Homo sapiens: one gene and its partner. The protein of the gene in region 2 purifies or fractionates together with the protein of the main gene of each other region. This does not show direct contact. Each region holds a gene or a part of one and is shown on either strand. Other genes may lie near its edges. The genes, in order: NUP205 and TTBK1.

Region 1 (3,814 bases), on a different chromosome or scaffold from region 2:
TGAGCCACGGCGCCCGGCCCCTACTAAACTGATTTTAGACTCACCATTTAAAAAATATGACTCTAAAGCCAAAGGTTTCTGTTTGGAAATAAGCAGATAAGGTACTCATATGTGTTTAGACTCTGAAGGAAAAACTGGTCAAAACCAATTACTCAACAGATGAAACTTAGAACTAACTATAGCCTAAACATTAAAGACTGTAAACAGGGTAAACTGTTGAGAAAACCCAAATCCAAATAAAGTTACCAGGATATAAGAACAACATGAAAGATAACTGTAATGTAATTAAATACATTATAACTCAATGAACAACGTCAGATGACGCAATGTAATTTAAAAACATTTTTTTTTTGAGACAGGGTCTCACTTTGTCACCCAGGCTGGAGTACAGTGGTGCCATCTCAGCTCACTGTAGCCTCAACTTCCTGGGGTCAAGAGATACTGCCCCCCTCAGCCTCCTGAATAGCTGGGACTACAGGTATGCAACCACACCCACCTAATTTCTGTTTGTTTGCTTTTTTTTTTTTTTTTTTTTTTGGTATAGACAGGGTTTCACCATGTTGTCCAGGCTTGTCTCAGACTCCTGGACTCAAGCAATCTACCCTGCCCACCTTGGCCTTCCCAAGTGCTGGGATGAAAGGCATGAGCCACTGCACCCAGCCTGAAAAAAAAATTTTTTAAAGGGAGATGTGCAGGGAGAGGACGGACTAAACCAGTGGAGATGGATTATTTATTCATACTTTCATTCACTATCAAATATTTACTGAGGGACCATATATACATATATATATATATATATATATATATATATATATATATATATATATATATATACACACATAGACTGAGCAAGACAGACAGAATCCCAAGCCTCATGGAACTTACAAATTGATAAGACTGACAGACATTAAACAAAGAATTCCAGGCCGGGTGCAGTGGCTCACACCTGTAATCTCAGCACTTTGGGAAGCCGAGGTGGGCCGATCACGAGGTCAGGAGTTCGAGACCAGCCACCTGGCCAATATGGTGAAACCCCATCTCTACTAAAAATACAAAAATTAGCCAGGCATGGTGGTGCGCACCTGTAGTCCCAGCTACTCGGGAGGCTGAGGCAGAAGAATTGCTTGAACCTGGGAGGCAGAGGTTGCAGTGAGCCGAGATTGCGCCACTGCGCTTCAGCCTGGGCAACAGAGCAAGACTCCGTCTCAAAAAACAAAACAAAACGAAAAAACAAATAATTCCAAAGATATCAGTATAATAAAAGATATGATGAAGTACAACGGGCTATGAGAGTACATGAAAGAAAGAGCCTAAACTAATCTGAAGATTAGGGAAGGATGCAAAGCGTCAGGTCTTTGATGTGGGGATGTGAGGAATCTGCATGTCTAGATCTTCCTTACATAGACAGATCATCCAATTCCCTGCTTTGCTTCTCCTGCTTTAGTCCCACACTTTCCAATCTTCTGATTAAAAATATAGCTCGACATATAAATTTCTAGCATGAAGGATGTGTTGACAAGGCAACATGAGTACCTATGCAGACATACTTCCCATTAAAGAGCAATAACTGGCAGACAGGGGTGGTGGCTCATCCGTGTAACCCCAGCACTTCGGGAGGCCAAGGCTAGGAGTTCAAGACCAGTCTGGCCAACATGATGAAACTCCGTCTCTACTAGAAATACAAAAATTAGCCAGGTGCAATGATGCACACCTGTAAATCCAACTACAAGGAGGGTTGAGGCACAAGAATCTCTTGAATCTGGGAGGCAGAGGTTGCAGTGAGCCGAGATCACACCACTGCCATCCAGCCTGGGCAACACAGCAAGCCTCTGTCTCAAAAAACAAATAAATAAACAAATAAAATAAAAAAGAGCAATAACTGGCATACTGGTTTATGTATCTGTCTTTTCTGAATTTGATTAGAGAATAATCAATGAATGGGACCTAATCAACTCTGGATACACTGAAAAAAATCAGATTTCTCTGCCTGCCAAAATGAGGACCTAGATCCTGGTGACTAGATGACTTCCCTCAGGATCATTTTCTTGGCCCTCTCTCTAACTGCAAAGGATAGAGTAGGTTTCAGCCTTGGATTCCAGGGCCATGATGGAATTTTTCCTATTAGTAAATGGCAAAGTTTCCAGTAGCAGATGACAAAATGAAACTGGCATTGTAGGAAAATGGTGTTCTAGTGTGGTTGATGGACTAGAACAGGCAGTGTCAGGAAACAAGGATAAGAGGTAAGTAAGCCACTTATAAGAAAATGGAACCGGGAGGCCAAGGTGGGCAGATCACCTTAGGTCGGGAGTTCGAGACCAGCCTGATCAACATAGAGAAACCCCATCTCTACTAAAAATACAAAATTAGCCAGGCATGGTGGCAGGTGCCTGTAATCCCAGCTACTCGGGAGGCTGAGGCAGGAGAATAGCTTGAACCCTGGGAGTGGCGGTTGCAGTGAGCCGAGATCACACCATTGCACTCCAGCCTGGGCAACAATAGCGAAACTCCATCTCAAAAAAAAAAAAATAAGAAAATGGAACCTAAACTAGGATGAGGGCAGTACAGGAGGAAGAAAAGGTCTGTTAGTAACAGAAAGGACTCAGAATTGGTCATCAAATGGCACATGGTATAAAGGGAAGGTATTAATGATGACTCCTATGCAAATCTGAAATATACCTTACCACAGACATTTCAGAAATCTGATAAAGTGCTGACAAAAGTTAATTTTCTCTCCCTCATTTTAAATATTAATATACAGTAGGACCTCTGAAAAACCAATAAATTTCCTTGTACTATACATATTTAGTGTAATAAGCTCAGTGAATGGTAGAGAAAAATCCAATTTTTCCCCCAATAATGGTAGGCATCCAATTAAAGATCAAAACTCTACAATAGGCCGGCTGCAGTGGCTCACACTTGTAATGCCAGTACTTTGGGAGGCCAAGGCGGGCAGATCACTTGAGGTCAGGAGTTCGAGACCAGCCTGGCCAAAATGTCAAAACCCTGTCTCTACAAAAAATTTTTAAAAAGTAGCCAGGCATGGTGGCGTGCACCTGTAATCCCAGCTACTCAGGAGGCTGAGGTGGGAGAATCGCTTGAACCTGGAGGCAGAGGTTGCAGTGAGCCAAGAGCGCACCACTGCACTCCAGTCTGGAAGACAGAGTGAGACTCCATCTCAAAAAACAAACAAACAAAAAAACTCAACAATAAAAAAACAGGTTCACTGGCCTACTTAGTTCGTCATTAATATCAACATAGCATCAAAGGGCCAGGCAAGGTGGCTCGCACCTGTAATCCTAGCACTTTGAGAGGCTGAGGTAGGCCTCCCAAGCAAGGTTCAAGGAGCTTAAGTGCAGGAGTTCAAGACCAGCCTGGGTCACATGGCAAAACCCTGTCTCTATTTAAAAAAAAAACAGGCCGGGCGTGGTGACTCATGCCTGTAATCCAGCACTTTGGGAGGCCGAGGTGGGCAGATCACAAGGTCAGGAGTTCAAGACCAGCATGGCCAACATGGTGAAACCCTGTCTCTACTAAACACACACAAAAAAATTAGCTGGGCATGGTGGCTAACACCTGTAATCCCAGTTACTTGGGAGGCCGGGGCAGGAGAATTGCTTGAACCCAGGAGGCAGAGGTTGCAGTCACCTGAGATCATGCCATTGCACTCCAGCCTGGGTGACAGGGCAAGACTCCGTCTCAAAAAAAAAAAAAAAAAAATAGCTGGGCATGGTGGCTTGTGCCTATAGTCTCAGCTACTCATGAGGCTGAAGTGGGAGGATCACCTGAGTCTCAGAGGGTAGAGGCTGTAGTATGC
Region 2 (3,814 bases):
GGTTGCAGTGAGCTAAGATTAAACCACAGCACTCCCGCCTGGGTGACAGAGCAAGACTCCATCTCAAACAAACAAATAAACAAAAACAATTAATGAAGCCAAATGCTTTTAAGTACTTTACATGAAAACTCTGCGGGAGGCAAGTGGGATGATCATGCCCATTTCATAGATGAGGGAACTGAGGCCCAATATAGTGGTTAGGAGCAGGGCTGGGCTCAGGCACATCTTCTGACTCCGAGTCCAGGGCTCTTTCCAAGCGTCCATCACCACACCCCATGGGACCCACTGACCCTGATCAGAGAATGGGGGAAACATCAGCAGTGTTCTGCCTGGGATCCACTACACGCCAGGCACGATGCTGCATACTGTAGGAGTAGAGACAGCCTGAGGCACACAGGATGCACTCAATTAAGCCGGTCCTCTCAGCAGAGAGAAACTGCCCTGTGCTCTGGAGACAGCCAAGCCAGAAGTGGAGTGTTCTGGGGACCTCAGAGGGTCTATAGCTGTCTGCCACCTCCTGAACCCAGGGCCTGGCAGAGACGCCCCCTGATCTTGGCTTAGCCTCATGGGATCCCCAAAGCCACACAGCTGCGAGCACCCCCCAGGCTGGGGCCCTGTGCTGGCTGCTAGGGATGCAGAGTTGACAGATAGGCATGTGGACAATTCAAACTGATGCACTGTGCCCTGTAGGGCAGCTGTATGGTGGAGAGAATTTACGGTGAAGAGAAGGGAAGCTGCAGAGAGGAGAGGATGAGTGGGAGGGGCGCCCCAGCAGAGGGGCAGTCTGTGCAGAGGCAGCACCCCATGCATGGGTTTGGAAACTCCCAGTGGTTTAGGGTTGCTGACATGGTGGAAATGGCAGAGGAGGTTTGAAGATGGTAACCAGGGGACAGATCTCAGAGGGTTCATGTCCAGTCAGTGGGGCTTAATCCAAGATGATAATTTGCATGTTGATTTGCATATCATGTGCATGTTTTCATTTAAAATCAATGTGCCGTTCTCCTTCCAATGCCCCCTCCAGGCCCATTCCTGTCCTGGAAAGTCCCTGTCTTCCTCCTATGATCCCAGCAACTGCCCCTTCCTCCTGGCTAGCCCCCGGATCACCTCTCTGTCCTCCCATCACCCTCACCCCCTGCAGTTGATCATGTCAGTGTTTGAGAACAGCATGAAGGAGAGGGGCATTGCCGAGAATGAGGCCTTTGACTGGGAGAAGGCAGGCACCGATGCCCTCCTGTCCACGAGCACCTCTACCCCGCCCCAGCAGAACACCCGGCAGACGGCAGCCATGTTTGGGTGAGTCTCAGGAAGGCGAGCCACCAGCCCCTGCCTGGAGCTGTTACCTAAGAGGGCAGGCGGTCCTCTCCTCTCCTCTCTTCCTATCTGGACACACTTGGCTATCTTTCCTATCCTTAGTGGAGTTCTGGGACTTTGGGAAACTCTGCCACATCTCCACCCTCAATCTGAGCATAGAGTGGGCATCTTCCTCATTTGGAGTTTTTAACCTTAGTGGGTCCCTGGGGGAGCAGGGAACCCTAAGCGAAATTACCTGAGCCCCACAGTTTATCTGTTTCTTATCATTCATATGCATGAATTTAACAGCCATGTCCTGAGGCCATACACCTGAAAGTTACAGCTCCTGCCCCCAAAGCACTCTCAGCTGAGTCTGGGATGTTTGAAATCGATGGGTCAGCAATTTCAGAACCATGTGACAGGCACAAAGACAGAGGTGGTCGAGGGAGGAGCTGGAGTTAGAAGGGGCTCTCCACCCAGCCCCAGGAGCAAGCCAAGGAGAGAGGTGGGCAGGGGCTTCAGGGGACACATTTAGGAAGGAGACTTAACAGGAGTTGGTAGCACATTACAGTGCCCAGTTCCATACAGACATTGCTTAAAGAACTCGAAAGTTTAATCATCAAAGAAGATTAAATAAAAAAAAAATTTAAGTGTATATTCAGGGCAACTTCAATCTATGCTCCCAGACTGCAAAATAATAATAAAAGAAAACTAAATTTAAAAGGATCTCCAAAGTGATTCTCCTTTTTAGACCCATTCCTGGGTCTAAAGGAAGCCAGACAGTGAACGCCAATGGAAATCTGGCAGGTCCTTGAACGACAGCAGGATCCACTAAGTCAACAGAGCTAGATGGCTACATCTCCTTGTGGCCCCTGCCAACTTGAGGGTCGTCTGGTCTCAGAGGCTTTGTGGGCCAGCAATGGTGATGGGCCTAGGGACACTCTCACCCCTGACGGGACTGCCTCTGTGCCCGCTCCTGGGGGTGGTCTCCAGGTCTGTGCTGGTAGGAGAGGGCCATGGAAGGAGAGGGCACCCCTGCCAGCCTTGCCCATGGCTCCCTCCTGCCCTCTCCAGGGTGGTCAATGTGACGCCAGTGCCTGGGGACCTGCTCCGGGAGAACACCGAGGATGTGCTACAGGGAGAGCACCTGAGTGACCAGGAGAATGCACCCCCAATTCTGCCCGGGAGGCCCTCTGAGGGGCTGGGCCCCAGTCCCCACCTTGTCCCCCACCCCGGGGGTCCTGAGGCTGAAGTCTGGGAGGAGACAGATGTCAACCGGAACAAACTCCGGATCAACATCGGCAAAGTAACTGCCGCCAGGGCGAAGGGCGTGGGTGGCCTTTTCTCTCACCCCCGATTCCCAGCCTTGTGCCCCTGCCCTGTTCCTCCTAAGCACCCTGTCCCCGGCCATCTGCCTGCTTGCCCTGCCTCTGTTTCCCGGTCCCTCCCCGCACTAGCCTCGCTGTGTCTTCCATCATCATCATCCTCTGTCTCCTTCACCCTGAGGAGACCATCCGCCCACAGCCGCCTCATCAGCCCCAGCTCATGGCACTCCCCTCTCCTGCAGAGCCCCTGTGTGGAGGAGGAACAGAGCCGAGGCATGGGGGTCCCCAGCTCCCCAGTGCGTGCCCCCCCAGACTCCCCCACAACCCCAGTCCGTTCTCTGCGCTACCGGAGGGTGAACAGCCCTGAGTCAGAAAGGCTGTCCACGGCGGACGGGCGAGTGGAGCTACCTGAGAGGAGGTGGGTCTGGGGCCAGGGGCATGGTTGGGGCCCAAGGCCCTCTCCGCCTTCACGTGGCTGGTCTGGAGGAAAAGTTAGATGTGTGGCGGAGGTGGGCAGACCCTGGGAAGTGCTGAGAGGGTTATACTTGGGCCTGGGGTCAGACTCAGTTGGGGCCAGAGACAGGGCCTGGGAGAACCAGTGGGGGATCCAGAGAGGTCCCGGCTCATGCCAGGAAACGTAATTGGGTGAGTGCAGGCTGCAGGAGGGACAGGTGGGGCGCCTGGGCCCAGGAAGGGTGAGGGGCGAGTTGGTTGGTGGGTGTGTGTGCTTCCAGAATCTCTTCTCCTAGAGACTAATTATAGACACTTCAAGTGCAGCTGAGGTAGGCTCTCTTCAGCTTTGGGGGAGGGGGCCTGGGAATTGCTGGAAGAGAGAGCAGGGCAAGTTTTGGGGGTTAGGGCTGAAGGATCTGAAGTCACAGAGGGGAGGGGACCAGCGGGAACCTAGTTGGGGAAAAGGAGCATTGAGAAGCTAGGTGAGCCTTTAGGAGGTGAAGATGGGAGGGTGGGAGAATGGTCTGTTGACCTCGGATGGTGGGTGGACAACAAGGGCCAGGGCCCGGTCCCCATCTGTGCTGGTGGTGGGTGGGACAACATCAGGTGGGGAGGCCCCTGAGAGATGTTTCCATCTTCCCTTGGCCTCTGAGTGGGACTTCACTCCACAGTAGGACTGGGGCCTTCTCTGCACCAGAAAAGGGGTCTCTTCCAAAGACCCAGTCCTGGGGATAGGAGGGGTATCC

What was found.
Region 1: the proteins of TTBK1 (region 2) and NUP205 purify together in Homo sapiens (affinity purification with mass spectrometry, with the first as the bait; one large-scale study listed by BioGRID). This does not show direct contact.

Annotation. Positions count from the first base shown.
Region 1 is NC_000007.14:135,564,149-135,567,962, reverse strand, and holds part of NUP205 (nuclear pore complex protein Nup205), read right to left. Parts: intron 1-3,814. UniProt on the Homo sapiens protein: Plays a role in the nuclear pore complex (NPC) assembly and/or maintenance. May anchor NUP62 and other nucleoporins, but not NUP153 and TPR, to the NPC.
Region 2 is NC_000006.12:43,256,674-43,260,487, forward strand, and holds part of TTBK1 (tau-tubulin kinase 1), read left to right. Parts: intron 1-1,138; coding exon 1,139-1,293; intron 1,294-2,364; coding exon 2,365-2,596; coding exon of another isoform or gene 2,597-2,857; coding exon 2,858-3,033; intron 3,034-3,814. UniProt on the Homo sapiens protein: Serine/threonine kinase which is able to phosphorylate TAU on serine, threonine and tyrosine residues. Induces aggregation of TAU.